Homo sapiens: one gene and its partners. The protein of the gene in region 1 purifies or fractionates together with the protein of each later gene. This does not show direct contact. Each region holds a gene or a part of one and is shown on either strand. Other genes may lie near its edges. The genes, in order: CD19, CD9, MINDY3 and CD82.

Region 1 (8,000 bases):
GTGCCCTGCCTCCATGGAAGGTTTCTTTGACTTCTTTTACATGCCATGTAAAAGTAATAGTAACTACAGCATGCCTCCGCCTTAATGGGATTTTATAGCTGAGGCAGTGGAGGGTCAGGTTAAGTTGCCTAAAGTCAGTTAGCAATTGAAGTATTTAATTTATCTGTGCCCCAATCTCCTTAGCTGTAAAATAATAATAATTTTTAGTGTACTTTCCTCATAGGACAGTGGTAAAGATAAAATGAGTCGCCACCTGGAGAACGGTACGATGCCTGGCACATCGTAGTAATGTTAATACAGATGAAAGAAGTTTTAGGGGCTGGGTGCCTGTAATCCCAGCACCCTTGGGAGGGCAAGGCAGGCAGATTGCTTGAGGCCAGGAGTTGCAGTGAGCTATGATCAAGCCACTGCACTCCAGCCTGGGTGACAGAACAAGACTCTGTCAAAAAAAAAAAAAAAAAAAAAAAGGCCAGGCGCAGTGGCTCACGCCTGCAATCCCAGCACTTTGGGAGGCTGAAGTGGGTGGATCACCTGAGGTCAGGAGTTCGACATCGGCCTGGCCAACATAGTGAAACCCCGTCTCTACTAAATATACAGAAATTAGTCGAGTGTGGTGACACATGCCTATAATCCCAGCTACTCAGGAGGCAGAGGCAGGAGAATCGCTTGAACAGGGAAGAGAGAGGTTGCAGTGAGCCGAGACAGTGCCACTGCACTCCATCCTGGGTGACAGAGCGAGACTCCGTCTCAAAAAAAAAAAAAAAAAAAAAAAAAAAAAGATGAAGTAAGTTTTACATGCTCAGAGATAAAGAAGAAATTTCTACAACAAAAACAGGGTGGGAGGTCGAGGCAGGGAGCTGTTAACTGGGGGCCAGGAGATAGAGACCAGCCTGGCCAACATGGAGAAACTCCATCTCTACTAAAAATACAAAAATTAGCCAGGTGTGGTGGCACAGGCCTGTAATCCCAGCTACTTGGGAGGCTGAGGCAGGAGAATAGCTTGAACCCAGGAGGCAGAGGTTGCAGTGAGCCAAGATGGCACCACCCACTCCAGCTTGGGTGACAGAGTGAGACCCTGTCTCAAAAAAAAAAAAAAAAAAAAAAAAAAGAAAGAAAGAAAAGAAATGGTGAAAATAATATTAATAGTATACCTACCTCATAGGGTCGTAAAGATAAAATGAATGAATATACACAAACATACATAACATGTCCATAAAATATACATAAAATATTTGAATACAATCCTGCCACATAATAAGTGCTTACTATCTTTGTGAAGTTATTGTAACGATAAAATTTGCTCATTGATATTAGTGCTTAGAACATAGTAAGGTCGGGCACTGTGGCTCACGCCTGTAATCCCAGAACTTTGGGAGGCTGAGGCAGGTGGATCACCTGAGGTCAGGAGTTTGAGACCAGCCTGGCCAGCATGGGGAAACCCTGTCTCTACTAAAAATACAAAATTATCCGGGTGTGATAGTGGGCGCCTGTAATCTCAGCACTTTGGGAGGCCAAGGTTGGTAGGATCACTGGAGCCCAGGCATTCAAGACCAGCCTGGGCAGCATGAGGCATTCAAGACCTCATCTCTACAAAAAATAAAAAATGAGCTGTGGCCGGGTGCGGTGGCTCACACCTGTAATCCCAGCACTTTGGGAGGCCGAGGCGGGTGGATCATGAGGTCAGGCGTTCGAGACCAGCCTGGCCAACATAGTGAAACCCCGTCTCTACTAAAAATGCAAAAAATTAGCTGGGCATGGTGGCGGGCACCTGTAATCCCAGCTACTTGGGAGGTTGAGGTGGGAGAAATTCTTGAGCCTGGGAGGTCGAGGCTGCAGTGAGCCATGATTGCACCACTGCACTCCAGCCTGGGCAACAAAGCGAGAGCCTGTCTCAAAAACAAAAAAAAAAAGAAGAGTATAGTAGATGCTCAATAAATAAGTACTCAGTGACAATGAATAGCATCTTCTAACTAGACTGCTAATTCCTGGGCTGTTTCTCCACTGGGCACCCAGCATGTAACTGCTGAATTAATGATAATTGGGTAGCTGGATGGTGGGAGGGGGCTGATCGTGACGGATCTGTGGGCAGCGGGCAAAAGAGGGCAGTAGGTGAAGGCTAGGCCATGGAAGGGGAAAGGCCCTTTGTTTTATTTTTATTTTTATTTTTTGTTGAGACGAAGTCTCGCTCTGTCGCCCAGGCTGAAGTGTAATGGCACCATCTCCACTCACTGCAACCTCTGCCTCCCAGGTTCAAGTGATTCTCCAACCTCAGCCTCCCAAGTAGCTGGGACTACAGGCTCGCCACCACACCCAGCTAATTTTTGTATTTTTAGTAGAGACGGGGTTTCACCAGGTTGACCAGGCTGGTCTCGAACTCCTGACCTCAAATGATCCACCTGCTTGGCCTCCTAAAGTGCTGAGATTACAAGTGTGGGCCACCGCACCGGGAAAAGGCCCTTTGTATGCAGAAGGCAGCCCTCCCTCTTCCATGGGATTCAAGACGCCTTTCCTTCCCTTCCTTTCCTTCCCTTCCCTTTCCTTCCTTTCCTTTCCTTCCCTTCCTTCCCACACAATGGCACTACTTCATAGGATTGGAAGAGCTCATTGAGTTTATTTAAGGAATACAAAGGGGACTGGAAGTGTCACTGGCATGTATACACACACACACACACACACACACTTACACACATGCACACATCCTAAGCAACATTGCTCCAGAGGTTGGCATCATCTGCTCGAGGTCTTCAGATTTCAGAGTCAGGTGTGAATCTTGGGGACTTGAGGAGATCCAGGCTATGCAGAAGAAACGGTGATGGGGAGGGGTCCAGCAGTCCTCCCCCTGCCCACCAGGCCCTAGGAACCCTGTTCCCTCTCCCTCCCTGAAAGCCAGCAGCCACTGCCATCCGTGCCTATCTCCCTCCCTCCCCGCTTTCCCTAGGGGCAGTCCCAGCTCACCTGGCCACCTGAGGATCACCTGGTGCTCCAGGTGCCCATGCGGCCCCCTCCTCCCCAGGCTGGGTCTGGCCCATCGGGATTATCCATGTTCTCATAAGAGTCTGCATCTGGATAGGACCAGGGAGGAGGAGAACATGGGTGGCACTGGAAGTAGGCTGGAAGGCAAAGTCAGCCCAGGGGACAGCAGGGGACAGCGGCAGAAGCACCCACCTTCCTCATGATTGGGTCCAGGCTGGCCCCGAATGGAGCGGAGCTGGGGGGCTGCATACAGGATTCCTCTCATATCCTCATAGGACTGGGACCCTGCTTGGGCGGGGGATGGAGAATTGGAGGCTAGGGCATGGGAAGTACAGCCTACGGTAAGGAGGAAGACTGAGGGGCAGAGGAAGGTGAGGAGCATTACCCATGCTGTGCTGGGAAGGGGTGATTTGGTTAGCATTGAGTTTGGGGCCCCAGTTAGCTGTAGGGTCAGGGTTAGATATGGGTTAGATTATGGCTAAGGAAGGGGTCAAGAACAGAACTGGGCTGGGCGTGGTGGCTCATGCCTGTAATCCCAGCACTTTGGGAAGCCAAGGCGGGCAGATCACTAGAGGCCAGGAGTTGGAGACCAGTCTGGCCAACATGGCGAAACCCTGTCTCTACTGAAAATACAAAAATTAGCCAGGTGTGGTGGCAAACGTCTATAATCCCAGCTACTCAGGAGGCTGAGGCATGAGAATCGCTTGAACCTAGGAGGCAGAGGTGGCAACTGCACTCCAGCCTGGGCAACAGAGGGAGACTCCGTCTCAAAAAAAAGAAAAAGAAAAAGAAGAAACTGGAGGGAGTCGGAGTCAGAGTCATGAAGAAGCTGCAGAGTAAGCTGGGGTCCAAGTTGAGGTCTGCACTGGGGCTGAGGTGAGGTGGAGATCAAGTCCAGGCTGATACTGCATTGGGATCGGTGTTGATATTCACAGTTAGGGAGGGGGTAAATATTGGGGGTCAGGATGGGGGATGGGGCTCAGGATGGGGGATGGGGCTCAGTGTTGAGGTGAGAGGAGTCACAGGATTGGGTTCGGGTTTGGGGTCAGGGTCAGGTCAAAGTTGGATCTGGTGTCAGAGCTGAGGCCAGGTCACCCAAGCTGGGCAAGGCAGTCTGATTGAAAGCATCTCTCACCCAGGGAGGTTGCTTCCCGGCTGGGGTCCCAGGCTGACCCATGAGGGCTCAGGAAGTCTGGAAAGGGAAGAGGGAGGTTACTATTCCTCCTGGCCTCCAGGTGTCCTCCGCCTCCCCCCTGGACTGTTGCCATCCTCACACACACCCATTGTCCTGGCGACCGGCTGGGTCAGCTCTTCATCCTCGTTCTCATAAGACTCAGCTGTGGCAGAAGAGAGAGAACTCCAGGGACCCCTTCTAGGAGTGTCACAGCGCTGCAATTACACCTAAGTCTCTGAGGTCCCACAAAGGCCCCAAGTTACCGTTGGAGAAGGAGTCTTCATCCTCAGGACCCAGGGGCTCATCCTCAGGGTTCTCGTAGCCGCTGCCATCTGGTGGAGAAGGAGGGGTGTCCATGGGAGTCCACAGGCCACCGCAGAGGTGGGGGGCCACGGGGGAGGGCAGCCTTACCCTGGGAGAGCTGGTCCTGCCCAAGGTTGGAGTCGTTCTCATAGAACTCGGAGTCCTCCTCACTGTCAGGTTCCTCATAGCCCTCCCCTTCCTCTTCTTCTGGGCCTGGGGGTTTGGGGATGGGGATGGGGAACCGAGTCATGCCCCCTCTCCTCCAGGGCCCAGTCCACTATTCGGGCCACAGACCGCTCCAACCCCCTCCATGTGGGGAACGACCCTTCCCTCTCCCAGTCATTCACCCACTCCCGGCGGGCTCCGGGACCCCAAGGCTCCATCCGCCTGGACGTCGCTGCTCGGGTTTCCATAAGACGGGGCAGTGCCCCCCAGGCCTGCGGCCCAACGCTGGGCGCGTCCTGGTGAGAGGGGCATTGTAAGACGGGGTCAGAAGAGATGGGGGCGGTCAAGGCTAAGGGTCCGCGCGGCGGGGCACGGGAAGAGGATGTTTTGGGCTCTGCGAATGGACTCTGGGTCTAGGAACCCGGCCTTGAACCCTGGGGCGGAATCTAAATCTAGGGCCGAGGCCTTCAGTTCTGGGGCGAAGTTCTGCTCTTGATTACGACTTCAGGCTCTGGGTCCTGGGGGCGTGGCTCTGAGCCCTGGAGGCGGGGTCTGGTTCTAGAGGCGGGGCTCATAGCTGGGCGGGACTCCCCGCCCCGGGGGCGGAGTTCCGAGCTCCAGAAGGCTTGGCGCACAGCGGATTGGAGGGATGAGGAGAGTGGGGGTGGAGCCCCGGATCTGGGGCGGAGCTATAGGCTGGAGGGGCGGTGCCTCTTACCGAGGCCTGAGGTGGGTGTGGGGAGAGACAGCACGTTCCCGTACTGGTTCTGGGGCCCGCTTCCTGGGGGAGGCGTCACTTTGAAGAATCTGGCGGGAGAAGAGGAAGTGCACGGTGAGGGCCGACTTGGAATGGAATGGCGGACCCACTCAAGATTCTGTCCAGGCCTTCAGAAGTTAAACGTGATCACTTGTGCTGGGACAGCCAATAGAGGAGTCTGAGATGATCATTTCCAAGGAGTTCTTCACAGAGGAGGTAGCTTTGGAGCTGGGCTTTGAGGTTGGGCAGTATTTGAAACAGTAGAGACGGAGCAAAGAACCCCTGGGCAGAGGAAACAGTAAGTGCAAGGCATAAAGTGAAGGTGGAGGGTGTTACCGCGGGGTGCACTGGTTGCATTACCTCCTGGTGGGGTCAGTCATTCGCTTTCTTTTCCTCCTCAGGACCAGGGCTGGTGGGAGTTAAAGGGCGTGATCAGAGGAGGGGCTGCTTGGCAGGGTGAGGATTTGTGGGGCCAGGTGCTGGGGAGGTCACTTGGTTCAACAAAGGAGACAGGAGTTCAAATTGCGAGGCGGACGGGCGCGGTGGCTCGTGCCTGTAATCCCAGCACTTTGGGAGGCCGAGGTGGGCGGATCATTTGAGGTCAAGAGTTCGAGACCAGTCTGGCCAACATGGTGAAACCTCGTCTCTACTAAAAATATAAAAAATTGGCCGGGTGTGGTGGCATACACTTGTAGTCCCAGGTACTCGGGAGGCTGAAGCACAAGAATCACTTAAGCCTGGGAGGCAGAGGTTACAGTGAGCTCAGATTGTGCCACTGCACTCCAGCTGGGGTGACAGAATGAGACCCTGTCTCAAAAAAAAAAAAAAAATTGCAAGAGGCTTGGGAAGTTTGAGGGAGGCTAGAGGAAGACTGGGGAGAACAGGATTCTGGGGTCTTGAAGGGAGGGATGGGAGGAAAGAAAGATGGTTGTCAGACTGGCCAGAGCCGGCTTATCCTGGGGAAGATGGAGTAGGGTTTGGACAGACCCACTGGGGACATGACTCACCTCTTTGAAGATGAAGAATGCCCACAAGGGAACACAGGCAGAAGATCAGATAAGCCAAAGTCACAGCTGAGACCTTCCAGCCACCAGTCCTCAGCAGCCAGTGCCATAGTACTAGGGGGAAGGGGCTATGAGACGAGGACCCCAGGCTGGCATCTTACGTCCCAATCCTGAGATCTCAAGGAACCGCAAGTCTGAGGCACAGAGGCAAGACACAGACTCGGCCGGGCGCGGTGGTTGACGCCTGTAATCCCAGCACTTTGGGAGGCAAAGGCGGGTGGATCACCTGAGGTCAGGAGTTCGAGACCAGCCTGGCCAACATGGTGAAACCCCATCTCTACTAAAAATACAAAAAAATTAGCTGGGCATGGTGGTGGGTGCCTGTAATCCCAGCTACTTGGGAGGCTGAGGCAGGAGAATCGTTTGAACCCGGGAGGCGGAGGTTTCAGTGAGCCGAGATCACTGCACTCCAGCCTGGGCAACCACAGCAAAACTCCGTCTCAAGAAAAAAAAAAAGACACAGACTCAAAGTCCCAAGCTGTGAGAAAGGCTCTCCTCTCTCTAAGGAGCCATGTCCCAGGAGGTCAGGGATTGTCACAGACCCTGGCACAGGACATGGGGCAGTGTCTTTGAGCAAATCGTGGACAAACCATGGCTGTACTCAGAGGCAATGTGTGGATTGAGGGGAGCATAATGATCAGTTTCCTGCTGCAATTAAGGATAGTCACGGTCAAAGTGAAGGGCAGAGTTGAGTTTGCAAGGTTACAGTTGGGATCCAGCACATTGCTTGGATCAAGTTTGGAGTGAAAGTTGGGGTTGGGTTTGTGAATTGCAGTTAGGATAGCATGATAGGATTGCATGGAGAGAGAATTGGCAGAACACTGTGACCAGTTTGTTGGACGGGGTGAGGAAAAAGAAGGATGCCCAGGTTCTTAGCCTGGGCGAGGGAGCAGGTGGTGGTGCCCTCTGCTTACACTGGGCCACCAAGAAGACTATACTTGGGGAAGACATTGAGTTTGATTTTGTATCTGTTGAGCCTGAGGTGTCCATGGGATATCAAATGGCACAGGAGATGGCTGAGTATGGAGCCTGGAATAGAGTCACCAAGGCATGGTGACCCAAGAAGCCATTGAGAGTCAAGTTCAAATAGGAAAGTGTGCAGACAGGGATAAGAAGAGGGCCCAGGGCTCCAAGAGTGAGGAGTTGGGGAGGAAGGAAGACTCCACCCAAGCTGGTGGGCAGGCGCAAGCAATGGTAGGTGAAGACCCAGAAAAGTAGTGTCTTGGAAGCGAGGGAAGAAAGACTTGAAGTCTAGGCCAGGTGCGGTGGCTTATGCCTGTAATCCCAGTACTTTGGGAGGCCAAGGCAGGCAGATCACCTGAAGTCAGGAGTTCAAGACCAGCCTGGTCCAACAGGGAGAAACCCCATCTCTACTAAAAATACAAAATTAGGCTTGGCCCGGCCCTGTGGCTCATGTCTGTAATCCCAGCACTTTGGGAGGCCGAGGCGGGTGGATCACGAGGTCAGGAGTTTGAGACCAGCCTGGCCAACATAATGAAACCCCATCTCTACTAAAAATACAAAAAAAATTAGCCAGGCTTTAATCCCAGCTACTCGGGAGGCT
Region 2 (10,128 bases), on another chromosome or scaffold:
TCTGCGACTCAGTTTTCCCAGCAGATAAGGGGTGGGGTCATAACTTCACTCATCAGGGGAAGTAAGATGACTTGGGAGATAATTGCTTGATAAGCACAAGCCTAGAGCAAAAAGGACAGTAATGAGCACTGTCTCGCTATCTCCCTATGCGCGCAAGAGCATCACAAGACCAGGGCGAGAGGGAGGACCAGGGTGAGAAACAGGTTGTGGCTAAACGTGGACCAAAATTGAGCACCGGCCTACAGTTTTCAGGTTAACGCTTTTATGTCCAGGAGGCCAGCAGCTTCAGTCTTCCATTCCCAGGGGACTGACTGGGCCTCCCTGGGGTTGGGGTGGAAGGAGGGAAGGTATCACCTTTGTACTTTTTTTTTTTTTTTTTTGAGAGGGAGTCTCGCTCTGTCGCCCAGGCTGGAGTGCAGTGGCGCAATCTCCGCTCACTGCAAGCTCCGCCTCCCGGGCTCACGCCATTCTCCTGCCTCAGCCTCTGGAGTAGCTGGGACTACAGGCGCCCGCCACCACGCCTGGAGAATTTTTTGTATTTTTAGTGGAGACGGGGTTTCACTGTGTTAGCCAGGATGGTCTCGATCTCCTGACCTCGTGATCCACCCGCCTCAGCCTTCCAAAGAGCTGGGATTACAGGCGTGAGCCACTGCACCCAGCCCACCTTTGTACTTTTAATGCTCAGGGACCTGGGGGGGGACCCAGGCCAGGACTTGCCATGTACAGAGTCAAGACCGCCCAGTGTGTGCTTGTCTAGTCCCTTGTGTACGTGAATTCAAGCCACATAACTCTTCTAGCCCAGCACGCTCCCAGCAGGGCCCGCCTCCCCGCCTAAGCTAACTGCAGTGCTCTTGGTCGGGGAACCCATGGTCTGAATGCGAGTACCCTGCTGGGTCCAGGACGGTGGAGACTCACGCTTCTCCCCAACCAAACAGTGATCTGCTTGCTGCCTTTGGATTAGGCCAGGAGACCCTCCCTCACTGGCCTTTTATTAAGAAAGAAAATCAGACTCGTCTTTGAACTCAGAACTCTCAAGTTCATTTGAACTCTCAAATTCTTGTGCCTGTGTGAGTTTTTCTCCTCTGCCTTGTCCAGCCGCGGGGCATGTGGCGTCGTACAGTCCTTACCAATGTTTGGAGCTGCCTGCCCTAAGGTGCGGCTGAGAGGCTGAGAAGATGCTGAGTGACAGTCCACAGGCTGGGAGTGCAGGGCTGGTGGGGCTTCATGCTGGTAAAGTGAGGTGGTTCTCCCAGAGCCCATTTGGTACCTTCCTCTTCAGATGCACTTCTGATATTATCTTCTTTATTCTTTAGCCATACCTAAAAGGCAGGGAAGGGCCGCATCTCACAATCCCTGCTTTACAGATGGGAACACTGAAGCAATAGAATATGAAGCTAGACTCTGCAGCCCCTCGTGGTGGAAGCACACCTCCCTGGCAGGAGCAAATCCCCTTATGCTCCTGGGGGGTAGGTGAGTTTGTGACTGCTGCAGGCGGAGGTCTGGGTGGCCCTTCCCACTATTGCCACATCTGCTGTCCACCCAACATGCCCACACTCACTGCCATATCGTAAGGGAAAGGAGAGGAGGAAAGGAGGAAGGAAAGAGAGGCCTGTCCACACCATGGGCTATCAATAGCTCCTGGAGCCGAGAACCAAGGTCCCTGATGAGCGGGCTCTGACATAAGAGTGCCTCTGTTGAGGAGGGTGGACCAGCAAAACCTGGGCCCACCCACTCCTGCGTCCAGCCGGCTACCACACTGGAGGCCTGTGAGTCACTCCCCCGGCAAGCCCTGGTACGGGTGACGACGAGGGAGCTCAGCTGGCACTGGGGGGACTTGGCAGGAGGCCTCCTGCACAGCATCTAGTTCAGCAGTGCCAGCGAGGGGAGGCCCTGGCATGTCATTTACTGAGCAGCAGGTCTCCAGGGACATTGCAGCTGCCCTCCCTGGTGCATGTGTGTCCGGAACTGTGTAACCATCACCCAAGTCAACAGTTAGAATACGACACCCCCAGCCACATGGCACCTCCCTGAGCATAATTTCCTCCTCCACCTAAACATCACCACTCACCTGATAACAATGCTTTTCCTTTATCATTTATAGGCACATGTAAGCGTCTAGCTCTGTGTGCATCCCTAAACAGCATAGCGTTTTTAACTACATGGAATCATATTGTGTGTGTGCCTGTGGCTCTGGCTTCTTGGTTTAGCATTGTGAGATGCACTCATGGTGTTGCGTGTAGCTAGAGTTACTCGTTTTCACTGCTGTATAGTGTTCTGTTGCCTATAAAATACCCCTTCAGCCAATGGGCGGCAGGTAGGTCACTGTTTATTCCTCGCTTGCTGGTATTTTTAGTACCTGCATGAATCAAACACACCCCGTAATGGCATCTACAACTACCAGGCGTATATGAGGGGCAGAGACCAAGGGTGGTCACAAAGTCCTTTGCAAGTCTCACCCTTAAGCGCGTGGGGACTGTGTTGTTGCTGGCAGCCAGAATTAATGCTGATGTCCTGTATGTCTTGCAGCTTGCCGGGATTGCTGTCCTTGCCATTGGACTATGGCTCCGATTCGACTCTCAGACCAAGAGCATCTTCGAGCAAGAAACTAATAATAATAATTCCAGCTTCTACACAGGTGAGGGACGGGGAAGGCTCAGTGAATTCAGACCCTGGCTCCAACAAAGTTCCTGCAACTTTGGAGGCCCCATGTTGACCCAGGGACTTGGGCTTGGGAAAGACTTTTGCTCTAGCCACGCTGGCCAGTCGTGTCCCTTTCAAGTTGTGCAGTTTTTGTGTGTGTCGTTGTGCCTGGGAATTTGCGTTTAACTGATGTGGTTTCTTTTCCTGATGGCCAAGTCAGGCATGTTGATGGTTCTCTGATGTGATGTAGCCTCTGCCAAAGTTGTACTCATTCTTGAGGGTTTACGAACCTCTGTTCTCATCTCTGATGCTCTCTCCTGATTGTCTTCTTATCCTGCATCATTTCCTTAATTCAAAAAGCTTTGTCCTGGGGATCTGCAGTGCTGGAAGAAGATATAGACAGCTTTCCTCTTCACTGTTCAGATAGGGACTCTGAGACTGGGAAAAACATCAGCCTCCTGGAAAACACAGCAACAATAGGAGAGACTAGAATGGACTCTGCCCAGTCCTTTGGACCCCTGGTACTGGGGTAAATGCTGTAGTGTTTAGTTTTATTTGTTTGTATTTGACACGACTTTTGCTTTGGGAGAGAGGCTTCCAGTTTAAACCTGCCTGGGATCCTCTGAACATGAACAGACTTGGCAGGTTTCTTTCTACACTCAGGCTTCTTGGCAGCCTTGCTAGACCATTCTATCCCTCTCGTTGCCGTATCACCACGTCAAAGCTCCCTTCAGAGGAGGGGGAGCCTGGTGCCTGCCAAGTGCAGTTGCCCGCGTCTGCGTGAATTCAGACTCTGCGGCTGTACTCTGCCTGGCTTGGAGGTAGGAAACTTTTCATTTGTGAGGAACAAAGGAAACCTCCTATTTTTAGGATGACGCTGACATGTTGTCAGGCTCAAAATGTAAGTTTGGTCACTTCCTTCCCACCCACCAAAAAAGTTATTTTTACAAACGAGGGAGAAAACAGTTATCTCCCAGTCCCTCAGGGAGAAGCAAGGCTGGCCAGCCACGTAGACCTTCCCTTTCCCACCTCTTGAACTGGGTAGGGAGAGTCTTTAAAAACAGCTCCTTTGGTTGCGTAACATTTGAGCCCTGTGGATAGTTTTGCTGGGTTTACTGCTTTTTATTGTTAGCTGGGGTTTTTTGGGGTGTGTCTCTCTATTATCGGAAAGAAAGTGAGAGAAAGCACAATGTATGTTTAGAAAAAAAACTACACATACACACAGAGTTTTTGGGGAACAGGTTTCTATAGCGCCCTGACTTGTTTTGGCAACAGACCATTTTTTGGGAGTCTGTGACAGGCTTAGAATGCTGTCCTGCAGAGCAGGAGGGAGGAGCCGGGTGCGGGTGCTGGGGAAGACTCTCCACACTCCACGCCGTGTTCCAGAAGGGAGCCCTGTGCTGGGGGAGCAGGTCTGCCGGCAGGAGCAGGCACAGTCAGGCCTGCTTTCCTAAGCAAAAGCCCTGTGGCCGGCGCGTGTGTCTCCAAAGAGAGACTCAGTCCTCCCTTGTCCTGGCTGCTTCTAACAACCCACTTTTTCTTTTCTGTTACCCAAAGCCTCTATGGCTGATTCTTTATATTTTTAGATGTGGGAGTTAAGAATCTCATGGGTAAGAGGATGGAACTGGGAGGAAGACACTAACATTTTTATTTTTTATTTTTTTTATTTTTTTTTTGAGACGAAGTTTCAATCTTGTTGCCCAGGCTGGAGTGCAATGACACAATCTCGGCTCACCGCAACCTCTGCCTCCCAGGTTCAAGCGATTCTCCTGCCTCAGCCTCCTGAGTAGCTGGGATTACAGGCATGTGCCACCATGCCCAGCTGATTTTGTATTTTTAGTACAGACGGGGTTTCTCCATGTTGGTCAGGCTCGTCTCCAACTCCCGACCTCAGGTGATCCTCCCGTCTTGGCTTCCCGAAGTGATGGGATGACAGGCGTGAGCCACCTCGCCCGGCTGGAAGACACTAACATTTTTGAGCCCCCTTCTTTGTGTGTCATTCATTGTCTTGTGTGTATTATATAATTTAATCCCCTTAGCTCTACGAGGAGTGTGGAGTGATTCTCATCTCACAAGTGCAGAAACCGAGGCCTAGAGAGCTGAAATAACTTGTCTAAGCTTATATTCCCTCAAGAGGCAGGGCCAGGTTTTGAACCCAGGCCTAAAAGAGCTGCTTCTCGGGTTGTCATTGCCAGGTTGTGGGGTCTCCCTCTGTAGGAATGGAAGAGGTCTGTACTGGCTGAATGTGCCCCATTGGCAGGGATGGGGTGGCGCTGTCTTGGCCCTTTTACTTCACCCAAATTGCAGTCAGGGAGAGAAACCCCTGCGTCGGTGGCCCAGCCAGCAGCTGACAGGTGGGAAAGCTGCAGGGTGGCAGGAGAATGGTGAGTGCCATTAGAGGAGCTGGGGCTCACCTCTGGGAACCTCACAGGATTCAGATCCTGCAGGTCATTGCAGGGCCCTGCTGGTGGCCGGTGGTCCTACCTGAAGTGACCAGGAGGGTGATTTGAAGGCACAACCCCAAAGAGACACAGATCCCCTAGTTGGGGTCTAAGGGCCACTGTCCACTTAGCTCTGCCAGGGAAATACAGATCCTTTGCAGCGACACCCCATTCGGGGAAGAGAGCGGAGCTTTGAAGACTTCGTTCTGCCTGCAGAAGCGCCGGCAAGGGGGATGATGCACGGTAAAGTTAGAACAGCAGCACTGTGTCTGGGCACAGTGATCAGCCCTGATCTCAGGTGATCCGTCCGCCTCAGCCTCTAGCACTTTGGGAGGCCGAGGCAGGCAGATCACCCGAGGTCAGGAGTTCGACACCAGCCTGGCCAACATGGCAAAACCCCACTTCTACTAAAAATACAAAAATTAGCTGGGCGTAGTGGCGTGCACCTATAATCCCAGCTACTCGGGAGGCTGAGGCACAAGAATCTCTTGAACCTGGGAGGCAGAGGTTGCAGAGAGCTGAGATCACACCACTGAGGCTCTGTCTCCAGCCTGGGAGACAGAGCGGGACTCCATCTCAAAAAAAAAAAAAAAAAAAAAAACAGCAGCACAGCACTCTGAGCACTGCTTAGGTCTGAGCTATGCCCTGAACGTCACTGAACGCTTTAGGAAATAATAATTGTCGTCCATGGGCAAAGGGCCAAGGAGGCGTCGCTCTGTGTCCCCTTCCCCACGAGGCTGTGAGACCAGCCTTCTGTACTGGCCCAGAGCCCTTCTCCTAGCAGATGAGCTTGGAGTGCCAGCCACACCCTGGCTACTTTTCCAAGGAATAGTCATGGGGTGACCGCCCCTTGCACTGGGCCACCAACTGTCTGCAGAGCAACCCACAGGCCAGCCTGACCATGCAGCTGACTTTTCAGGAAACCTGAACAGCCCAGGGGTGTCTTTTCTCCAGTGGGGCCACAGCTTACCAAGTAGAGAAAGAGTATATAACCAGGCAGAAAAGCAAGTGAAAACCTTTCCAACATTCAGAACAGTCTATGGTAAGTCCAGAGCAGCTGACAGCCTTATATGGGCCTTCTCTCCAATCCAGGCCTGGAGATTCAGCCCGTCAGCAAGATCCCTAATCCCAGGCTGCAAACTTGTTGGGGAACTTCATTTTCTTGGTCCTAGGCCAGCAGCCTTTCCCAGCTCCCTGGTGTCCCTCCAGAACCATGGCTGCTGAATGAGGGCATCTAGGGGGGCTCCAGCCAGAGGCCGTGAATGCCCCCCCTTCCTCGGCCAGCCCCCTATCCATGATGAGGTGCCTGGTGATTTTCAGGACACGCGACACTTGGCCTTAGTAAGCTGGCATCCCCATCCTGGCTTGTGACCTGGGGCAGTTCATTTTATTGCTCTGGGCTTCATTTTTCTCCCTCCTGAAACCAGCACAGCTTACACAACCACAGCACAGCTTACACACCCACTCCCCTCTGGGGCAAAGAAGTACAGCGTGTGGCAAATGGAATTCCATTGTGGCACTTATTCCCGTGAACTCGGGAGGGCGGGAACCAAGACGAAACCAGTCGGGGCAGAGGTAGGGCTCCTTTGAACACCTGGTGGAGTTATTTGGATATAATAAACTTTTATTGCAGGCCAGAGGCCCTACCGGATTTTGTTCTCCTTCACACAAACGGGCGTGGTGAGTGCTGTTTGCAGGACAGAGCTGGTGTAGGGACGGGAGCCTGCTGTGTCCTCTCCCTGGGCTAAACTGAGAGCCCTGGTGAACAGTGAAAAACACTGTTCCATTTCTTGTGTAAAGGACACGCTGGCATATGCTACTGCTGCTACACCAGCCTTTCTTTTTTTTTTTTTTTTCTGGGCCTGTAATGTCAGCCTGAAAAAAGCAGAATAAACAACCCTTAAGCAAATTAATACCGTAATCCTAGAGAAGGCTCTGTGATGGATAACTTTTTCCATGAGTCAGACAGCAAGCTAACATTCGCTTGTTTTATAAAGGGGAACACTTTGTCATTTATCAACAGCAGCCTTGGCTAACAAGCTTGGGGTGTAAGCGATGAGTAGCTTCTCCAAAGGGAAGCACTGAATAGCCCTTGTAAAAACCAGCCCGAGCCCTGCAGTGGTTCCGTGACTTCCATGGGGCCTGCTTCCAGATGAGCTGTCCTGTAGCTTGCCGGCTGCTGCTGAGTCCCCGAACACAGCTGCCAGGGGATCGCTTCCCTTTTCCCGTGACTAGAGAGGGCTAAAGCTAGGCACTGCAGATCCGTAGCCATCCACGCAAGATTTAAAGCCCACAAAACCCGTGATCCTAAAATCTTCCTCTGCTGAGCCCTAGCATGAATATTTAATATTAACCACAAGCCCCATTAGGAGCATGTTCTCTTTCTCTGCGTGGGAAATACTTTCTCTTTAGTAGCTCACTTGCAGCTAATCCAATTCCCTTGGCCTCTGCCAGGACCGCCAGGTTCAAGAACTGGGATCTGGACTTAGAGAAAACATGTCTGCCTGTTCGTTCCCACTCCACGGTATTTCATGTGTTTGTAAATCCTTTTGATCTCTTAATACCTCCTGTTTATTCAGCCCCTGCTATGGAGCTCAAAGGAGTGACCTCATCCTTCCTTGACTTGCCCCCATTAGATGGGGAGAAACTGGGGCCTTTCTACTGTCCCCATGTGAGAGAACCAAAGGAGGCTGCCCTCTTACCCAGTGCTCCATGCATGGGGCTGCACAGCCTCCCCAAGCCCAGCTTGTGGCCTCAACAGCGTTTGACTGCCCAGGAAGATGCGACCTGACTTGAGGACAAGCTACATTTGTCCCCTTGCCCAGTGTGGGCCAGGCATGCACAAGAACAATACCCATATTCTTGCAACATGGGGTTTGCCAGTAACCCCACGTGACTTGACCTCACGACGGATGTGGGGGAGAAGGGGGAGGAACAAACGCTCTCTGTGTGCATTCTGCTCTGTGCTGCCCGTGAGCCTCAGCTGCGGGCAGACTGCATGGTTTGTTGCCTGCAAAGTCTCACCCCTGCTCGGGGTGCAGATGTGGGACAGTGAAGTCAGCGTGTCACCTGCCGAGGGTTCTCATCGAGTGTCCTGCTGTGTATTGTGGGGAAACATCACAGACTTTCTCTCTCGCGTGCGTGTTTTCAGCCCCTACATCAAGGATATCTCTCTGGTCCCAGTGAAAGGACAGTAGGGATACAGCAGCAGGTTAAAATTCACCATGGTGATTATTAATGATTGTTACTCATGCTTGGTATAATTGAGATTAACAACAGCTAGCATTTGTTGTGCACATGTGGATTATATCACTTAATCCTCACAGCAATCCTGGAAGTGGGCATTATTGCTACTCCTGTTTTACAGATAGAAAACTGTTGCACAGAGAGGTTAAGTGGCTTCCCCAGAGTCACAGATCTGGTGCTCTCGACATGTGACAGTAGCCTCTCCCAAGGCTAGATAGAACATGCCTGCAAGACAGGGAGGCACAGAGACTTTGCTGCTGGTTTTCCTTTGGGACCCATGTAGGGCTGGGGTGCTGATTAAGGGAATAGTCCCTGCAGGACAGCTGTGGCTTCTCAAGAATAGAACTGTGGGGTGGCCCCTCTGGGCATTCCTTTGGTGGGTTGTGGAACGAATGGGGCCAGTGCTGCTCTACTGTTTGTGTCCCAGGAATTTGCATTGTTCTGGGTTTGGGCAAAAGTTATAGAAGTTGCTGCCCTTCTCTCACCTCCTTTCCATGAGCCACTCAGATCAAGGGCTTAGTAATGGTGTCACTCATCCTCTCCTTAGCAAGGAGGAGCCTCTTCACCCTTAACCTGCAATAACTGAGTTATGACTGTTAAGATCTTGTTAGCATGCTATAGAGATCTTTTGAAATTTCCAGGAACATACCTCTTTAATTTTACTAGTAAGGAAATTGAGGCCCAGAGAGGGAAAATGTCTTACCCCAGGTCACACAGCAATTAGCATCAGTGTTAGGGCCAAAAGAAGGGTCTTCTGACACCCAGATCTGTGTCCTTTGCACTAGAGTCAGGTATTGGACCTTTGCCAAGAGGTGCCTTTGGGTGTTCCTAACTGTATGTGCCTAACCACCACCCAGCAACAGGGCAAAGAGGCCCGCCTTCTGGGAACAGGCAGAGTTGGTTCCCCCCACCCCTGGGTAGGGGGGTGCCTAGGTGTGCACGGCCCCTTCCTGCTGGAAATCTGCTCTGACAGCGTCCTCTGTAAGGCAGGGTCCCAGAAGTTAGCCAGAGTGTGGAAGGTATATGCTAACTAGCTTGAGTGGATTCATCTTGCTGGAAAGAGCTGACAGACTGGACCAGTTTGCATTCCGAATGTAGGGATTCCCGTGGATATTCTCTGTCCTGGATTGAGGGCTAATGGGCACCTTCCAGAAGGGCTGAGGGTAAGGTAGGAGCGTGAGCTTGATGAAGCAGAGTCATGCAAGAGAGGCTGGTGGGAAGGAGACCTGGGGCAGAGGTGGAAGAGGAGGCTGTATTTTAAGGAAAGGGAACTTCTTCCCTGAGATGAGGGGAATAAGGAGGTGGGGAGGCAGGAGTTAGGCAGAGGGAAACAGGAATTGCCGGAGATGCCTGGGCCTCTGAACTGATGTCTCCACGCGTGTGTGCTTCCTCTGTCCTCCCGCAGGAGTCTATATTCTGATCGGAGCCGGCGCCCTCATGATGCTGGTGGGCTTCCTGGGCTGCTGCGGGGCTGTGCAGGAGTCCCAGTGCATGCTGGGACTGGTGAGTATCCCCTCGGCATCCCCACAGCCACCCTGACTCCCACCAACAAAAACCTCAGCAGGCCCAGACCCAGACCACAGAACAGATGGAGGGGGATGGGGTCAGGAAGGTACCCAAAGGGCATGAGCTGTCCTCAGCCTGGGCCCCTCCCCGATGTGAGGCGTCGCCCCTCTTCCTTTCTGGAGCCTGTCTTATCGCTTCCCCTAGGCAACTAAAAGGACTATGTTTCCCCCTTTTCTCGAGGACCACGTTTGCTTTTTTTCCCTGAATCCACAGGTACCTTTGCCTTCTCCTTCTT
Region 3 (5,962 bases), on another chromosome or scaffold:
AACCTTCCCTACTTTCCAGCATCTTCTTCAGAGGCAACACTTTCAACTTCAGGGCTTTCTGGTAGTTACAACTCCATAAACCTAAGTTCCTTCTTTTGTCAAATGAGTCCCCAGTCAAAGGATAAGGATTTGAGAAACATGCATTTTACTTTCAGTTGATTAGAAATTGCCTGATATAAATATAATTTAAAGTGTTAATAGTCCTTTATTTATAATAGGGCTCCAGTGGTCCAGAATCTTTTACTGTCTACCACTACAATGGATTGAAGCAGTCAAATTATAATGAAAAGGTATGATAATTCACGTAGTCGTCGGTGTTCAACTGGGTTGATGAAATAATTATGTGAGTATGTAACAATGTTCGATTCCCGTACAATTGCTACCTAAGATTATTCCAGGAGTCTCTTTACTATGAGGACACATTTTAGAATCAGCCATCTTTGGATTTGACCAGTATATGTTAGTCTGCATTGGAAACTGACATTGGACTTCAGAGCAGTAGTTTCACCATGACTAAATACACCCCCATACAGATCGTTACCCTTGGCAGTGTAGCGTGTTTCTAAATCAACATCGTAGTTAGTCCAGTGAAAGTTGTTACTTATCCATTTAAAGGAAGAAAGAGGTAACAGTGAGACTTTTTACTGGAAAAAATATTTTTAAATAAATAACCTTCATAGTCAGCATATATTGAGCATTTACCCGAAATTGTATTAAGTACTTTGCTTAAGTTTCACAGCACCTTATGAAGGAAGTGTTGTCTGTATATCTCCATTTTACAGGTCAAGCAGCCAGGAAATGACAGAGCTGGGAGTGAAACTTAGTCCAGCTCAGAGACCATGCTCCTACCCATGATGCTTTGCAGCTTTCCTTTGCTAACCGTTGACAAAGCACATAGGTGATTCACTGCCAGGTGTACTCAACCTGGCGTAAAGCTAGAGTTCGGCTGCATTGATTTCCCCTTTTTGTGTGTCTATTATCTTTGCATTTATTCAAGTATGAGTTACAGTACATACTAGTTATAGTATATATATATATATATAATATATATGTATTAGTTATAGCTAATATTAAAGGAATAAGGTCTAACATTCCTTTTTAATTTGATCTGCCCATGCTGACTTCATGTATCTAAATTGTGGAAGGTTACAGAAAACAGTGTAAATTAAGTACATAATTTTAATTAGACCAAATCTAAAAGACTAAAATTTACTGCTATCTTTATAACAAAATATAAATTAGATGTTTTTGTCAGGTCCAAAGATATATATATACAGCATCCAAATTTTCTTGACAATGTATATTCTTTGCATGTATATATATATGCAAACTTGGATGTTGTTTTCTAATGTGCGAATGAGTGCTTCATCTAGAGTTTGATGTTTGCACAGCTTTGTAATAGGAGGTACTTTATAATCACTAATTATTCACCTACACAATCCCTGCAAGATAGGTCAAATATTATCCATATTTTACAGATGAGGCATCTGAGACGGGGAGATCAAGTGACTCACCCAGGGTCACACAGCAAGTCATTGGCAGAACAGGGATTGGAACTGAGTTCCTGATTCCCAATCCTGTCCTTGGTCTGCTTGGCCACTCTACCTGTATGTAGTATAAGTTTTCAAATCATGTTTGTGACAAGCTTCTGACACACCAACAAAAAGATTAGAAAACAAATAGGATGAACTGTTAAAATGACAGTAATATACAGCAGCTATAAAGCAAAGTATGGATGTCATTAAGTCACAGAAATATGTTTTGAAGTTAATCAGGAGCTAAAATTATAAGCTGCATAGCAAGGTCCTGTTAGAAAGGAAACAGACAAAAGGAGAATGCTGGCAAAGTGAGATGGAGTCTGAGCCGCCAGGCATCCGAGCCTGATTGAGGCCATGGAGGTGGGTCATGGCACCTTGCCCAAGCACTTCTGCTCTAATGACATGAGTACATGAAGTTCTTTGTGAAAAATAGGGCCGATTGTATTTAACTTAATAACTTGAATTATATTCTTTGTGTATAACTTTTCAGAGAAGGCAGTTTTGCTTTGGGGACTGAAAAGCCCGAGTTGTAGTTTCAATGTCAATTTATTTCATCAACACTAGAAACTAATATATTAACTAAAATAAAGATGCCAAAAAATGTATTTCACGTTACAATGTATCTTTAGCACTTTCTTAGGAATGAGTAGATTCATGACACAAGATTATCTGATCTAGTAATATATTCTATTCCTATATTTAATGTGTTTTAGAGGCAACTACCATTTAAGGATAATAAAGTTGTTTCTTTTGGCTCCTTAAATAGCTTATGGCTTTTATTTTGGAAGAACATAATTACACTCATGTGTATCAGCCAGTGAATGTGTAAAAATAATTTTATACACTTTGGAAGAAGACAGTCGTCTGTATCTGTTTCTTTTAAATTATACAGCATCAGAATTTCTCTTGGTACAAAAAAGAAATTAACCACCAAGGAGTGCCTTAATGTCCACAGTGAGCCCTTGGTAATGAGTTAGGGTTTTTGTTGATATGTCCAAAATACTTTTTAAGTATGTTTCATTGTAAATTAATCAGAATAAAATTTTTCTTGCTATTCACCTGCCAGTATATATTTCTGTGATCACTGCCACTGCATATACAGTATCTGGTTAGTTTGATCTTTCAACGTCTCTTTTACTTTTCTTTCTGTCCTGACATCCTTTTTAATTTTTTTCTCCATGATTTTTCATGCTGTACAGAATGCACTCATGAATTGCATTTCAGGAATATTTAATACCATAATAGCAAGTTTTGTTGACAAACATTCAAATTGGTTTCAGCTCTAGAAATTCAATACTTAAATTAGAAGGAGACACATGTTCCTCAGAACATAATAGCTATATTCCTTTTATAGCTCTCCGTTTCATTAGGCAGCATGAGCATCTGAGAACCTCAGTATTAAAGCAGTAGGACCTGTATAAATTATATGTAAATATGATAATTAAGCATTTCTTTCCGATGGTATAGATCCGTTGAAGAATGTTTTTTTTCTTAGAAACAATCTATGTGTTTTAGGATTCACATGATCTTGAATTTTTTAAAAATCACCTGGCCAGCTAGCAATTAAATATCGTTTACAAATTTACTTTCACATTAATCAGTAAGCAGATATTCCTTCTCATTTCTAGCAAAATAAAATTACATGTCAAGTTTCATCTGAAACTATGTAATACCTTATTTGCTAGCCTCTAAAAATTGTTTTCATTCCACATAAGAATTTGCTAAGACTGTTGCTTGACCTTGGTGGCTTTATTTTGTTCAACAGGTCATGTACGTAGAAGGGACTGCAGTTGTGATGGGTTTTGAAGATCCCATGCTACAGACAGATGACACTCCTATTAAACGCTGTCTGCAAACCAAATGGCCATACATTGAGTTACTCTGGACCACAGATCGCTCTCCTTCACTAAATTAATTTGTCTAAGTATTTATAAGGAAGATCTTAATAACAGATGTTGAAAGAAGGAGTCAAGACTGGCAATTGGCTGGATTAAGCTAAACACTGGTATCACTGATTAACTGTAAATAACAATTAAAAACACATTTTCAGTGTTTATGATATGTTTAAATTATTTGTCCTAAAGCTTTATGTTAAAGATTATCCTATTTTACCCCTTCGTGTGAAATTTACTAGCAAAATTAAGCTTTCATCAAAGTTCATCACTTTTGCATTCAGATACTTGGTCATTTACTTACCAAATTACAAACGCAATACTACAGCATTTGTATATTAAGTATCACAGTTACTATTGATAAACTACTTTTGGGTTTTATTTCATTGAGGCACTTTTTTTATTGTTTGAATGATTCCGGCTTGTAATATATCAGCCTCTACAATGAAATGCAGAAGAGTTCATTTTTCTAAGATCTGTTTTTCATTAGAAATATTGACAAATAACACATTGTCAACCTGGATCCTTTGACAATTTACTTAACTCTGGCATGTTCACAAAAAGTAGAAACTCTAAGAGACCATTACCATTTATTCACAGATGTATAGGGGATGTATTCTAAAAACTGACAGAAAAGAGAATCTGATAGTCAACACTGTTAACTTTTACTGTGTAATTGCCAAATACACTTTTCCAAATTTGTCCCAACAGCCCTGTAAGCCAGCTTTCTTCTATATTTATAAACACGATAAATGCATGAGAAGATCTGTTATTACATTAGTATATTACGTTATTTATTATGATCCTAGTTGATGGCCTAAATAAACACCTTTTTCTTTAACTGTACCCTTGCATTTTTTACATTGGTGGCTCAAAATAAACAAATACGTACTTCTAAATGTTTCTACCCAATAACCCTGAGAGCACAGAGTACTACAAATGGCTAAGTCATACAGGACCTCGAATAAGAGACCAGGCCTTATGCTAACCTAAGAGCTCTGCTAACTCAGCCAGCCAGAAGCATGAGAACCCACATGGCAGCTTTCTAGACCAGTGAGCAAAGATGCAGAAGCCCGTTTACTTGAGAGAGAGATCTGCTGTATTCTGATAGGTTTGTGGCCCAGCAATTTAAAATCACATAGCCATTAATACTTTTTTTCCTCCACGTGTAAAGCCACGTGTAAAGCAGATAATTATGTAGTATCCTCTTACACATTTCAGAACTGAACATTACCTTCAATAGTATAGTTCCTGTGTGAATTTCTGTTTGGGTTTTGTTTTCTTTCGTACACACACACAATTACAATATAATTAAGCATAGGGAAAGGCATGAGATTTTGTGTATAACTTTTGGTGACATTCTGTTCAGGAGTATGATACTACTTATTAAACTTACAGCTTTCAAATGTCAATATTTTGGTCTAGGCTACTTCCAAATCTGTATAAAATATATAATGCTAGAATTAGTTTCTCAAAACTCTGGTTTAATAATCCCAAATTCCAAAAGGATTACACAAAATCGTAGATTGTCTCATAAACATCAAGCCTATGAAATAGAATGGTCCTCTTACCATTGTTACACAACAAATCATCCCAAAACTTCATGGCATAAAACAACCATTTGATTAAATGTACAAATTCTTTGCTCAGGAATCTAAACGGGGCAAGGTGGGGATGCATGGCTTGTCTGCTTCAGTCAGCAGCCAGGGGCTAGAATTTTCTGAAGCTGTCTCTACTCACGTGGCAAGCATGACTGGACCTTAGCTTGATATCATTGCTGTAGAACACTACATTTAAATAGCCATGGGAACATTTCCTTTCCACATGCACTTGGGCTGCTTACCAAACTAGATTATATGCTGGCAATAAAGTAAGTCTAGAAAATCTCAAAAGATTGGAAATTAAGTGACACACTAATGAATTACCAAAGGGTCAAAGAGAAATTGCAATGGGAATTAGAACATACTTTCTACTGAGTGTTAATGAAAATATGACATAGCAAAAATAAAGGAAATATATAGCATTAAATATGATATATTAGAAAAGTAAAACATTTGAAAATTGGGAACCTAAGCTTTTATCTCAATAACAAACCCAAAATAAGAGGAAGTAAATCCTAAAAGAATATCCATATACAAAAGAATGAATTTGGATCCCTACCTCACACCATTTGCAAAAAGTAACTTAAAATGATTGATTATATATCTAATTATAAAAGCTGAAACTATAAAATCCCTAGAAGAAAACAAAGGAGTTGATCATGATCTTGGGTTAGGCAATGGTTTCTTAGATAAGATACAAAACACAAATGACAACAAAGATAAATTGGACTTAAAATTAAAAACTTGTGTGTGTCAAAGGACACCCTCAAAGTGACATGACAACCCATAGAGTGGGGAAAATATTTGCAAATTATATTAAGGGATTTGAATACAGTATATATAAAAAACTGATAACAACAACAACAAAAACTTTTAAATGGACAAATGATTTGAAGAGACATTTCCCCCAAAGAAGATTGGTCCTTAGAGA
Region 4 (6,324 bases), on another chromosome or scaffold:
TCAGAAAAAAAAAAAAAAAAAAAAAAGGCGGAATTGACCCCGTCTCCTTTTTCACTTTTCACTTTTTTTCCTTTTCACCAGGAAGCTCAGAGGCAAATCTCAACTCCTGCACTAAAGTTGAACGGCCTTTCCTAAGCTTATTGTGCTCCCCACACCTATGCTTGGTACTTTGCCTGCCTCATCCCATTTAGTCCTTGTGATAGCCCTGTGAGTTGGGGATTTTAATTATCCCCATTTACAGATGAGGAAACTGAGGCTAGTTCCTTGATGGAGGTTGCTCAGCTGGTAGGCGGCAGGGCTGGGATTGTAACCCAGTAGCCTGACTTTAAACCCTGCACTGTGAACTGTCTGCCGTCCATTCTCCTTGTGCCCTGCACACCTGCGCTCCTTCAACTTGAACTTCCTTCCTACTCTGCTTTGTATTTTTGCTGGTCCTGGTTTTGATTTTTCTGCTGTACTTGTAGTTTATGATGGTTCGGCTGGGACCAGGGGCCTGGAAGTGGCATATCTCAGTCTCTGTCCTGGGGAGGTCCTCCCTCTGCCAGGAGGGCAGCCTGCCTAGGGTGAGCCGTGAGCACAAGCAGTCTGTCCCCTGCCTTGCCCAGGTGAAGTGCTGCGGCTGGGTCAGCTTCTACAACTGGACAGACAACGCTGAGCTCATGAATCGCCCTGAGGTCACCTACCCCTGTTCCTGCGAAGTCAAGGGGGAAGAGGACAACAGCCTTTCTGTGAGGAAGGGCTTCTGCGAGGCCCCCGGCAACAGGACCCAGAGTGGCAACCACCCTGAGGACTGGCCTGTGTACCAGGAGGTGTGCGGGGGGCTGCGGATCGGGGGCGGGGCTCCGAGGGCGTTGGGGGCCATCTGGGCTACTGCTCAGCAATTCCTTCCTGCATTTAGTTCCTTCCCTTAATTCATCTGTCATTTGTACCTTCATCTACTTCTTTGTTAATGTATTTATTCAAGGAACAGGCAGAGCCCTCTGTAGGGGCTTCCGGGCTGGGACTGGGGGGCTCTCGGTGGTTCTGCATGGCGGGGTGGGATGGTGCAGAGCGGGGTGATGTGACCGCATTCTGCCCTTGCAGGGCTGCATGGAGAAGGTGCAGGCGTGGCTGCAGGAGAACCTGGGCATCATCCTCGGCGTGGGCGTGGGTGTGGCCATCATCGAGGTCTGAGCCCCCTCCCCCATCCCTTCTCCATCCCAGGTCCTCCTGGGTTGTCTCTGTTCTGCTGATCTCCTTGGGGAGGTGGTGGCCAAGGGGGCCAGCACCCCATCAGCTTCCAGAGGCCCTCTGGTCTGAGCACTGTCTGGCTGTGTGACCTCAGACAAGGCACTGCCCCGCTCTGGGCCTCCCTCTGCTGCCTGCATCACAGGGTGGTTGTGAGGCTCAAGTTGAGGATCCACTTAATCCCCATGTAAACCTGGATGGTGAGGCTGGGGCGTCTGAGGCCGGGACACCCAGCCTCCCTCTGACTCTCCGCCTCTCCCCACAGCTCCTGGGGATGGTCCTGTCCATCTGCTTGTGCCGGCACGTCCATTCCGAAGACTACAGCAAGGTCCCCAAGTACTGAGGCAGCTGCTATCCCCATCTCCCTGCCTGGCCCCCAACCTCAGGGCTCCCAGGGGTCTCCCTGGCTCCCTCCTCCAGGCCTGCCTCCCACTTCACTGCGAAGACCCTCTTGCCCATCCTGACTGAAAGTAGGGGGCTTTCTGGGGCCTAGCGATCTCTCCTGGCCTATCCGCTGCCAGCCTTGAGCCCTGGCTGTTCTGTGGTTCCTCTGCTCACCGCCCATCAGGGTTCTCTTAGCAACTCAGAGAAAAATGCTCCCCACAGCGTCCCTGGCGCAGGTGGGCTGGACTTCTACCTGCCCTCAAGGGTGTGTATATTGTATAGGGGCAACTGTATGAAAAATTGGGGAGGAGGGGGCCGGGCGCGGTGGCTCACGCCTGTAATCCCAGCACTTTGGGAGGCCGAGGCGGGTGGATCACGAGGTCAGGAGATCGAGACCATCCTGGCTAACATGGTGAAACCCCGTCTCTACTAAAAATACAAAAAAAATTTAGCCGGGCGCGGTGGCGGGCACCTGTAGTCCCAGCTACTTGGGAGGCTGAGGCAGGAGAATGGTGTGAACCCGGGAGCGGAGGTTGCAGTGAGCTGAGATCGTGCTACTGCACTCCAGCCTGGGGGACAGAAAGAGACTCCGTCTCAAAAAAAAAAAAAAAAAAAAAAAAAATTGGGGAGGGAAGGGCGTTAGATAAGGCACTCTGGGCTGTCAGGAGACTGCCTACTGGGTGGGTCAACTTATTTCCCACTATGACATTTATATCTTTATTTTTCACAATTATATTGAAGGCAGTGGGAGAGGGGAGAGGGTGGGTTTTACCTGATATTAAGGGGTGGCACCCCTTCCCCAGGCCTGATGCAGGTCCATCTAGACAGCTCAGATTAGCCTAGGCCATGCCCTAGGGACACGGCCTAGGGGAGCTGGGCTGGAGGGGGTCTGCCTGGGTAAGGGGATCTGGCTTGGCCCTGAGCTGCTTAGGGACAGGTGAGTCCTTGGGGGCATGGCACAGAGCTGGTCCTGTATTCTCCAGGGTCCGGAGCTGGCCAGGGGCGGGGAGGAGGAGGATGGCTTCTCCTGGGAGAAGGTGGGCTGGCCTTTCTTGGCAAGCGGTCCTCTGGCCCCTGGGGAGTGGGGTGGGTGAGGCTGTGCCTTGTAGGGGGAGAGGGGAGGGGGCTTTGTGTGCACCATTCTGTAAAACACACTCAAGATTCTAAGACTATTAAAGAGGATTTATAACAGTCTAGTCTGGAATGGTAGGGATGCTGCTTCCTGGGGCAGGGGAGGACCCAGGGCAGAGGGTGTGAGCAGAGTGGCTGGGTCTGCTGGAGACTGCTGGACCCCTCACTGCTCTGCCCTCCCCGCAGGCATCTGCTTCTGCAGCCTGAACCTTAGGACCGTGATGGGCCAGGCTCTGATGGGCCTGCCTGCATGCCGGGGTGCCTGGAGTTTGATTTGGTGCTAAGAGAGGTATAGATTGTACCTCTCAATTCCTGCTTCTGAAACTAGGGTATGGGTGCCCCCAGAAGCTGCACAAAAGTGGGCTGGTGATGGGGGACAGGGAAGCCACAGGATAAACTTGGCATCGCTTTCTAGAGCATCCGTTTCTGCAAAGATTTGTGGAAGGAAACATTTTCATACTAAAGAAATGTGATGGAGTAAGATGTGCAGAATTCAGGGGACTTTTTAAGATGAAATGTGAGACTTTGGGAGGCTGAGGCAGGTGGATCACTTGAGGTCAGGAGTTCGAGTCCAACCTGGCCAACATGGTGAAACCCCATCTCTCCAAAAAATACAGAAATTAGCCGAGTGTGGTGGTGCACGCCTGTAATGCCAGCTACTCAGGAGGCTGAGAAAGGAGAATTGCTTGAACCCGGGGGATGGAGGTTGCAGTGAGCCAAGATTGTGCCACTGCACTTCAGCCTGGGCAACAGAGCGAGAATCTGTCAAAAAAGAAGAAAGGAAGAAAAAGAAAACGACAGAGAGAGAGAGAGAAAAAGAAAAAGAAGCTTGCTCTTACTTGTGCACGGCTCTGACGACTGAGCCCCAGCATGCCCCTTGCCCGGCGTCATGAAGTCCAGAGGGCACTTGCCCCACCTTCTCTCATTTCTGGAGCCAGTGGGGAGGGGAACTCTTGCCTCCCTGCAGTGGGGCCAGGCGGGGCGGCGGCTAGAGTGGTGTTTCAGCAGGGACCACCAGGCGGCGCTGCAGCCTCAGCCTAGGAGCCCGGCAGAGCCCAAAGGTTCCGTGGTTACTCCCAGTTTCGCCAACGCGGGGCCTGCCAGCGTCCCACTCCAGTGGAAGCACTTGTGAAAATGCAGATTCCAAGGCTCAAGGATTCTGGCGCTGCAGATCTAGGGTGGGGACAAGGAATCTGCCTATTTGCACCCCTTTGCGTTGATTCCGGAAGATTTTCAGACCTGGAGTAATGTCTGTCCCAAGCCACGTGATGACCTCTCAGCGAATGTGGCAGCTGAGGAGGTGTCAGCGGTGGGGTCGGCTGTGGGTCCCTCTGTGGCCTTGGTCGCCTCCCTCTGGGATGGGGGCAGGAGAGGAAAATGTCGATGGTTCCACCTGGCCTGACTTCCCTGGCCCCCCACAGCTTCCACCCTCAGGAAGGGTAGCAGAGAGCTGTTGGGTGTCTTTTCATAAATGCTTTCTCACTGGGAGCAAGGGGACCTGAGTTTGAGTCCAGCTGCATCTCCATCTTCCTGTGCGACACGGGGCCTGGCAGGCTGAGGGTGGGCTCAAAGCTGTTTGCAAAATAGAGGACTGAGAAAACGTCAGAAGTTAGCGAAGGGGTGGGCTGCTTCCTCTGACACGTCCATCCTGCCCAGAGCTCACAGCTGGAAGGGGCCAGAGCCAGGATTTGAACCCCACGTATCTGACTTCAAAGACCATCCTCCTGGCTCCACTGGCTCCTGCCCTTCCAGATTTCCCAGAACAGCCCCAGGACGTGTGTAGTGTGAGGCTCTGACCCTCGCTTTTGTGAAATCTGGTCACTGTGAGCTCTGAGCCTGCTGGGTTCCTCATTTCAACCTCCTGGGGAGCACCCAGTTTCAGCAACCCACTTACTCCCAGCCTGTGAGGTTTTGGGAGGGAGGGAACATAGACCCATGTCTAACACTCAGAATCGTCCCTGCAGCCACTAATCTGTCCCATGCCCATCTGGGGCTTCCACACCTTCCAGCTGCCCTCCCTGGGCCCTCTGTGGGCTGCCATCTCTCCTGCCAAGGGCCCTGACAGGCCCAAAGGACTGGCACATGGGTACCATGTGGAGGAGAGTACAAGGGTGCTCCTTGGCAGTGCCCACCCACAGCTCCCTGGGGCAGCCAGGAAGAATGGCTGGAGCAAAGGGTTGCTCTTTGGGCTCCCGTGGGAGGTTAGAGACAGTGCCTAGGATGTGTTCAGGGAGCTGGACTTTGGGGGGCACTGATTGGCATGGCCACTGACCAATAGGTATGGAAGTCAGGCCTGAGCTGGAATGGGATCCTTACGTATGGATTGGCGGGAGGTGCAGGAGCTCTGAGAGATTGAGCTGGGGGGGAATTTTCAACTGGTGTGGAAATATTTCTCCATTTTATTCATAATAACTGGTATGGCTGGCTGGGTGAGTACTGGTGAATGGCAGCCTGATACATGTGCACATACATGCATGCACTCTCTCACACGCACACACTCGAGGCCCTGAAGGCCCCTGAGGGCTCAGTCCATTCCCAGCTGGGAGGAACCCTAGCTCTTCTTCCCTGAGACTAAGCCATGGGTGGCCCGTAGTGAACAGGGAAAGCCAAGTGTCTTCCTGCCTGGCCTTCCCGGGCCTACACTGCAGAGCCCCCTCTGCCGCTGATCACCATCCTGTCTCCTAGCAGAGCTGCCTCCAGCCTCTGCCCCAGATGATCTTCCAGGTGAGCAGGTCCCCCAGGCTGAGAGCAGCCGGGTGGAGGGGCACACTGGTGACGCTGGAGCATCTAGCCAACAGGCATCTCCTGGGCCAGCGCTCCCATCGCCTTTCTCCCCTGCAGAAGGACAGAGACCCAGGTTGCTACGCTGCCTCGGGGCAAATGTCTGGCTGTTCTCTGGGGTCTTTAGAGGCTGTAGGCTAAGGTTTATTCATTTATTCATTCATTCATCCCATGAATACTTAATGGCACAGACTATTTGTGAAGCACAGTTCTAGGATCTTAGGAACACAGCAGTGAACACACACAAACCCCCTGCCCACATGGCACCTGCATTCTGATGAGTGTAGAGACTCTTGCACACAACTGATGCACCAGGACACACGTGCACACACAGCACACGCATGCACACAGCACACCCTGCCACACGTACACAGGTACGTACCAGCACACACTGCCGACTGCTGACAGCACAGTCTGAGCCAAGTGCTGCTGTGGGATCCCTGGGGCCCATCCAAGGCCCCTTCCTGTGGAAGGAAGTAGAATGAACAGCGCGTCGAACAAACAGGAAAGTAGGAGGAAGTGCTCATCGCCCCTGCCACAGTGCAGGAATCAGCCATTGCCCTGGCAATCCCCTTCCCAACTGAAATCAAATAGAATCAGAGCAGCTGCCACTGGACGTGACAGGCTGTGCAACTTCACCTCTCTTAGTCTTATCGGGAAAATGGGGACTCTCATTCCTCACTCCCAGTGCTGTTGTGGGAGCCAAATGCGGTCACGTACACAGTGAGCTCATTCCCCAAGCAGCCCATTCCAGGACTGGCCCCAGCTTCAAGGGGAGGTTTCCCATCCTCTGGGGGATAC

What was found.
Region 2: the proteins of CD19 (region 1) and CD9 purify together in Homo sapiens (affinity purification with western blotting; 2 studies listed by BioGRID and IntAct, with this or other methods). This does not show direct contact.
Region 3: the proteins of CD19 (region 1) and MINDY3 purify together in Homo sapiens (affinity purification with mass spectrometry; 3 studies listed by BioGRID and IntAct, with this or other methods). This does not show direct contact.
Region 4: the proteins of CD19 (region 1) and CD82 purify together in Homo sapiens (affinity purification with western blotting, with the first as the bait; 2 studies listed by BioGRID). This does not show direct contact.

The regions. Positions count from the first base shown.
Region 1 is NC_000016.10:28,933,934-28,941,933, reverse strand, and holds the end of CD19 (B-lymphocyte antigen CD19 isoform 2 precursor), read right to left. Parts: intron 6,505-8,000; coding exon of another isoform or gene 6,491-6,504; coding exon 6,380-6,490; intron 5,782-6,379; coding exon 5,733-5,781; intron 5,423-5,732; coding exon 5,334-5,422; intron 4,912-5,333; coding exon 4,798-4,911; intron 4,664-4,797; coding exon 4,559-4,663; intron 4,480-4,558; coding exon 4,411-4,479; intron 4,311-4,410; coding exon 4,254-4,310; intron 4,166-4,253; coding exon 4,109-4,165; intron 3,262-4,108; coding exon of another isoform or gene 3,259-3,261; coding exon 3,166-3,258; intron 3,063-3,165; coding exon 2,971-3,062; 3' UTR 2,956-2,970; intron 2,794-2,955; 3' UTR 2,592-2,793; downstream 1-2,591. UniProt on the Homo sapiens protein: Functions as a coreceptor for the B-cell antigen receptor complex (BCR) on B-lymphocytes. Decreases the threshold for activation of downstream signaling pathways and for triggering B-cell responses to antigens.
Region 2 is NC_000012.12:6,222,900-6,233,027, forward strand, and holds part of CD9 (CD9 antigen), read left to right. Parts: intron 1-1,069; exon of another isoform or gene 1,070-1,319; intron 1,320-1,364; exon of another isoform or gene 1,365-1,470; intron 1,471-2,526; coding exon 2,527-2,635; intron 2,636-3,239; exon of another isoform or gene 3,240-3,461; intron 3,462-9,732; coding exon 9,733-9,830; intron 9,831-10,037; coding exon of another isoform or gene 10,038-10,106; intron 10,107-10,128. UniProt on the Homo sapiens protein: Integral membrane protein associated with integrins, which regulates different processes, such as sperm-egg fusion, platelet activation and aggregation, and cell adhesion.
Region 3 is NC_000010.11:15,776,483-15,782,444, reverse strand, and holds the end of MINDY3 (ubiquitin carboxyl-terminal hydrolase MINDY-3), read left to right. Parts: exon of another isoform or gene 1-211; intron 212-218; coding exon 219-290; intron 291-1,478; coding exon of another isoform or gene 1,479-1,568; exon of another isoform or gene 1,569-2,596; intron 2,597-3,303; coding exon 3,304-3,453; 3' UTR 3,454-4,271; downstream 4,272-5,962. UniProt on the Homo sapiens protein: Hydrolase that can remove 'Lys-48'-linked conjugated ubiquitin from proteins.
Region 4 is NC_000011.10:44,617,557-44,623,880, forward strand, and holds the end of CD82 (CD82 antigen), read left to right. Parts: intron 1-605; coding exon 606-809; intron 810-1,083; coding exon 1,084-1,167; intron 1,168-1,492; coding exon 1,493-1,570; 3' UTR 1,571-2,802; downstream 2,803-6,324. UniProt on the Homo sapiens protein: Structural component of specialized membrane microdomains known as tetraspanin-enriched microdomains (TERMs), which act as platforms for receptor clustering and signaling.